Homo sapiens: one gene and its partner. The protein of the gene in region 2 purifies or fractionates together with the protein of the main gene of each other region. This does not show direct contact. Each region holds a gene or a part of one and is shown on either strand. Other genes may lie near its edges.

What was found. The genes of interacting proteins can lie anywhere in the genome.
Region 1: the proteins of LIPT1 (region 2) and UBR1 purify together in Homo sapiens (affinity purification with mass spectrometry; 3 studies listed by BioGRID and IntAct, with this or other methods). This does not show direct contact.

What each region holds. Positions count from the first base shown.
Region 1 is NC_000015.10:43,057,539-43,061,038, reverse strand, and holds part of UBR1 (E3 ubiquitin-protein ligase UBR1), read left to right. Parts: intron 1-924; coding exon 925-987; intron 988-1,213; coding exon 1,214-1,337; intron 1,338-1,846; coding exon 1,847-1,954; intron 1,955-2,609; coding exon 2,610-2,698; intron 2,699-3,500. UniProt on the Homo sapiens protein: E3 ubiquitin-protein ligase which is a component of the N-end rule pathway. Recognizes and binds proteins bearing specific N-terminal residues that are destabilizing according to the N-end rule, leading to their ubiquitination and subsequent degradation.
Region 2 is NC_000002.12:99,157,967-99,160,801, reverse strand, and holds part of LIPT1 (lipoyl amidotransferase LIPT1, mitochondrial precursor), read right to left. Parts: intron 2,506-2,835; exon of another isoform or gene 2,390-2,505; intron 1-2,389. UniProt on the Homo sapiens protein: Lipoyl amidotransferase that catalyzes the transfer of lipoyl moieties from lipoyl-protein H of the glycine cleavage system (lipoyl-GCSH) to E2 subunits of the pyruvate dehydrogenase complex (PDCE2).

The DNA.
Region 1 (3,500 bases), on a different chromosome or scaffold from region 2:
AAGCTGATTGAGCTCGAGTTTATGTAACTATTCTTGTCCAATCTGTTCTTTTAACAATCTCTTATGGCCTGGCTTTTTGTGCTTTTTTTTTTTTTTTCTGTAATGGCAACCTTACTGGTGTAATTAGTAGTCCAAATATATTTGGATAGTTCTTATGCTTATGTACTAAGCAGCTAAAGAGGGAATATTACAGGATGGTTAAAAGTACAGACTCTGGAGATGAAATGCTTGTCATGGATCTCTGAATCTGTCACTTGCTAACTTTCTGATTGGGGGACAAATTAACTTCTGTCTTATTTTTCTTTTTATCATCTGTAAAATGTGGTATACCTTCTTCATAGGGTCATTGTAAAGGTTAAATGAGGAAGACAGTGCTTCCTGACTTTTTTCACATGGCACATATAGAAAATGATGAATTTTTACAGGTGGGTAAAAGAATGAGCTACAAGGAAATCCTACATAGACCTTGCATGACCGCCTCCAGGACTGGTGGAATCAGTAGTCCAGCTATACTTCCCGCTCGTTAATGGGCCACAAGTATATCATAGGATACATGTTGAAGAGCTGTGAATTCATTCATGAAAAATATTTTAAATACATAGCAGAAGTTTAGAAAGCCTGAGTCATTGTTTCATATAAGTAGAGAGGACACTGCAGTAACTAAAGAACTGCCATTCCTGCCAGGCAAGAAACTCAGCATCTTAAACTATAGACTGTCTGTCCTAGAGGTATTAAAGTTTTCATACTTCATAAAGGTGTTAAACATTTGCATCTGTCTTTCAGATATTGTTCCGGTATCTTACAACTTTTAGTCAACACGCGATTAGAGCTCAGTTAAGAGCTCATTAAGTCTTTGGGCTACATATTGCTTATTGATTGTGGTTATCATTTCACTACCTAATTCTCACTTTTGTCTATAATTAGGGTCGTCGGGCTGTTAAAGCGGGAGCTTATGCTGCTTGCCAGGAAGCAAAGGAAGATATAAAGGTAACTTTCTGAATTAGGGGGAAAAAGAGAAGTTAAAGATGAATGTACATTACAAGAGCCCAAGTAGAATAATTTGAGTGATGATGTCGTTGAAGTGGTTTGGGGCACCTAGATGCAGAGATTTGGAACTGGCAGGGTTATGTGATTTCTTCATTTGAAGTATAAATCCCTTAACTAAAAGCAAATTTTAAATGCTATTTTTTTGGTTCGTTCCCTTCATTTGTAGAGTCATTCAGAAAATGTCTCTCAACATCCACTTCATGTAGAAGTATTACACTCAGAGATTATGGCTCATCAGAAATTTGCTTTGCGTCTTGGTTCCTGGATGAACAAAATTATGAGCTATTCAAGTAAGCATACCTCCTGTTTTTCTTGTTTCTGATAAAATACTATGTGTTTTATAGCCACAAATTTTAAAATGTCATTGAGTATGAAATAAAGTTTTTCTTTTTTTTTTTTTTTTGGTTTATACACTTTGATTAATTTTCAGGGTTGCATTTCAAATGTATAATATCTTAGGATATTATTTCAAGTGCATAGTATCAAATAATATCTTTTTATTGGCTGTTGAGTCTTTGATGTTGACAGAATTATTCTTTGCCTCAAATGTGGGAGGATTAATATTATTCTTTTCACATGTTATAGGAAATGTACTTTTAGGAGAAATGTTATAAGAATAAAAATTATGGCTGAGTACAGGGGCTCATGTCTGTAATGCCAGCACTGTGAGAGGCTGAGGTGGAAGGATCGCTTGAGCCCAGGAGTTCAAGACCAACCTGGGCAACAGAGTGAGACTCATCTCTATTTAAAAAGAAAAAGAATACAAGTTGTGTAACTGTGTGACCTCTTTTGTTTGTAGGTGACTTTAGGCAGATCTTTTGCCAAGCATGCCTTAGAGAAGAACCTGACTCGGAGAATCCCTGTCTCATAAGCAGGTTAATGCTTTGGGATGCAAAGCTTTATAAAGGTAAGTAGACATTTGCTTATGCTGTTTGTCAGGAAGCAAAGGAAGATTATGACCTTAAAGTGGAGCTGTAATATCTTTTGTTTATTAAATTAGTTATTAAATCTGTAATCTTGATTGATAAGATACTACATGTGAATATAAAGTTTAACCAGTCAGTATGTATTCTTTGGTGTTAAAACCCAGGGATGTTGTCTTTTAATTATAGAGTCTTTTCATTTAGTGAGAGCCAGTCAAAAAGAGTATATATGTATGTGTCTATACATGTATCTATATATTCAGGTAGTAGTGCCATTATCGAGTAGCGAAAAAGATGCTATTTTCATTGTAAAAATCTAAATGAAGAACAAAACGTAAAAGGCTAAAAGCATGGAGAAGGAAAAGTACAGTGAAATAGAAAAAGAATGAAAAGGTTGGGAGAGAGTAAATTGAAGTGTAAGATGAAGTGGTGGGAGGGGTGCAGAAAAAGAGGGAAAAGGCAATATATGTGTGTATTTTAAATTCCAGTTATTAAATATTAATACAATAAATACTATTTGAGGTCTGTTTGCATGTGAAGTAATTTTATAATATTCTGCCACTCTAATAGCCAGAATGTTTTTGGTTTTTGCCTTGGTGATTCTCCTCATTCCCCCACCCTCCCCAAAATAATCTATAGGTGCCCGTAAGATCCTTCATGAATTGATCTTCAGCAGTTTTTTTATGGAGATGGAATACAAAAAACTCTTTGCTATGGAATTTGTGAAGGTAATTATTTATAAATTAGATATCAATAAATAGAAATAGGCAGTTTTTATAAATGAATTAATAGAAACAGGGATAATTATGAATCAAAAATTAAATGTTATGATTTATTTCTTTGTCAAAAGTTTGTTCTTGGCCCTGCGGGTTGGCTCACGCCTGTAATCCCAGCACTTTGGGAGGCTGAGGTGGGTGGATCATTTGAAGTCAGGAGCTCGAGACCAGCCTGGCCAACACGGTGAAACCCCGTCTCTACTACAAATACAAAAATTAGCCAGGCATGGTGGCAGGTGCCTGTAGTCCCAGCTACTCAGGAGGCTGAGGCAGGAAAATCACTTGAACCTGAGAGGCAGAGGTTGCAGTGAGCCAAGATCGCGCCACTGCCCTCTAGTCTGGGCAACAGAGTGAGACTCCCATCTCAAAAAAAAAAAAAAAGTTCGTTCTCATACGTTATATAAATATTTTCACAAATGTTATTTGCTAGTATAGAAACAGCATTCTTAGAGAAGAGATAGGTGGAAAATGACCCACTGACCCAGAGCAAAGGGAGGTTATCACATTCACATATGCATTCAGTCTTCCTAATCATTTATTTGCCTGTTAGTAAAATTACAATAAGAATAGAAGTGACTAATTGAAAAGTATAGCAGGAAAGAAGAACAGATGTGTATGCTAAAGTGGGGGGCAGGAATTAGGTGGCCAAGAGTTCTACTTAGTTTTTGGAAGCTAAAGCATAAGGCTAAAATTTACAGCTTTTTAATGTTTTATTAATCTATCGTGTATCTCTTACCTTACTGTATCTTTTTGT
Region 2 (2,835 bases):
CCTGTTTGACTTTGGGATATATGATTTACTGGCAGCATAACTTTTATTTAGATCAATATTAACTTAGGATGAACCCTTGAGGTCAGAGAGAGAGGCAACTGGGAGTATGCAGGTTTATATACAAAGGCTAAGAATAAATTCACTATGTTTGGATGCTTTCCACATTATTCATGTTACCATTGCTAATGAAATATTAGGCAGCAAAAGGTTGAAAATACTAGCTATGAAAATGAAGTATTTTGATTACTTATGGTCTTAAATCATTCTATTCCAATTCTATTTCTTAGAATATAATTTTCCTTCAGGTTGAAGAACTGGGAATAGAATGGATTATTAAAGTGTATAACTTGAGGTTAAGAGTTTGGTTCTAAATAAAGAAAGTTCATAACTAGGTAGCTAGGCTTTTTTATTTTTTATTTTTAAGACAGGGTATCACTCTGTAATTGTCTCACTGCAGCCTCGACCTCCTGGGCTCAAGCAATCTCCACATCTCAGCCTCTGAAGCAGCTGGGACTACAGGTATGCGCCACCATGCCTGGCTAATTTTTAAATTTTTTGTAGAGATGGGGGTCTCCCTACGTTGCCTAGGTTGATCTTGAACTCCTGGGCTTCAGTGATCCTCCTGCCTCAGCCTCCCAAAGTGCTGGGATTATAGGCATGGGCCACTACACCTGGCCCCAAATCATTTAGTTAAGTAATATCTTAGAAGTACAATTCTAGATTAAAGAGTCTTCATATTTTCATCACTCTTGTTGTAGTTTATAAACTAACCTACAAAAAGTTGAATCAGTTTACATTCTGTCTAGAAAGGTGTGGAGAGGTTTAATAGAGGAAGGAATACTTGAACTGAGTCACCAAATCTGATAAGTTTGCCAGGTCGAGGAGCATATTCCAGGCATATGCAAAGACAAAGAGTCATCTAATAGTAAGGTATGTTTGGGGATTCCCTCCTAAGAGAAAGAGTTACACTACTAGTCTTCGACTTCCACTTAAGCCTATGGCTATACTGTCCTAGGAAGCCTCGCAACCGAGACTGCATTACTTTGGTTAACCTCTTTGTTCTTGGTTCTGCTTGACTGACTTTGACACAGTACCATATTCATTCAACAAGTATTTATGGAGTTCCTACTAGGTACAAGGTAATAAGGAGATAGAAAATGGGAGGAGATAAATTCATGTAATGAACCAAAATATTTGGACTTTTTAAAAGGCAGCTAAGATCCACTGAAGTGTTAAGCAGGAAGTGTTAACTCAGCTGTTATACGAATCTGCCTCTGCAGGGTTGAGTATGGATTAAATAAAGGATGGACTAGGGACAGGGGGAACAGTTAATGGACTAAGGCAGTTGTCCATGCTAGAGATAATGAGGGCCTAAAGTACGGTAGGAGAGAGAGAGAGAGAGAAGGGGATGGATATGAGTGACATTAAGAAGGTGAACTGGCCGGGCGCAGTGGCTCATGCCTGTAATCCCAGGACTCTGGGAGGCCGAGGCAGGCGGATCACGAGGTCAGGAGATCGAGACCATCCTGGCTAACACAGTGAAACCCCGTCTCTACTAAAAATACAAAAAATTAGCCGGGCATGGTGGCAGGTGCCTGTAGTACCAGCAGCTCTGGGAGGCCGAGGCAGGCGGATCACGAGGTCAGGAGATTGAGACCATCCTGGCTAACACAGTGAAACCCCGTCTCTACTAAAAATACAAAAAATTAGCCGGGCATGGTGGCGGGCGCCTGTAGTCCCAGCAGCTCTGGAGGCTGAGGCAGAAGAGTGGTGTGAACCCGGGAGGCGGAGCTTGCAGTGAGCCGAGATCGTGCCACTACACTCCAGCCTGGGCGACAGAGCAAGACTCCGTCTAAAAGAAAAAAAAAGAAAAGAAGGTGAACCTGTCCTTGCCTTCAAGAAACAAGTACCTCCACAATCTAGTGGGAGATACTAAAAAACAAGTAAGGCAATAATTAAAATACAGTGTCCTAAATGCTGTGATAGGTGTTAAGTACAGTAGAGCGCCATCTAATGCTCTAATTAGTGGATGTGACATTGAAGCTGAGACATAAAAGGGATAAAGAAAAGAATTCTAACAATGTGCAACAGCTTAGTGGAAAAGGAGATAGGACCCATGCAAATAATTTAATTCTACTGGCTGGTTATTAGGAATACAAGAATGGGGAGTTAATAAGAAGGCAAGAGAAGTAGATGTTAGATTATAAAGAACCTTAAATCCAAGTGAAATGCTTGAACTTTATTGCCCAGGATGGAGTGCAGTGGTGTGATCACGGCTCACTGCAGCCCCGACCTCCTGGGCTCAAGCAATCCTCCCCCTTTAGCCAGCATGTGCCACCACGCCTGGCTATTTTTTTTTTTTTTTTTTTTTTGTAGAGATGAATCTCACTTTGTTGTCCAGGCTGGTCTCAAACTCCTGGGCTCAAGCAGTCCTCCTGCCTTGGCCTCCTAAAGCACTCGGATTACAGGCATGAAGGCTTTGGATTTATACTTCAGGGACACCGCCTAGAGATTTTAAGCATGGAGAATGTACAATACTTGGCAATAGGTTGAATTAGGGTGAGAGAAAGAGAAGTCAAGCATCATGTCCTTTATGATATAATGATTACAAGCTCAAACCAGAGTGCCCTCATTCAAATCCCAACTCTATCCTTTATCAGTTGAATGACCTAAGGCAGATTACTTTTCTATGTCTCAGATTTGTTATCTAATATGTGGATAATGACAGGACTCATCTCATATTATCAGGCTGAGTCTGATGAGCTAATACATATAAAGTGGTTAGAAGAGTGCCTGGCACTGAAGAAAGTACACAATATGTGCTAACTATTTTAT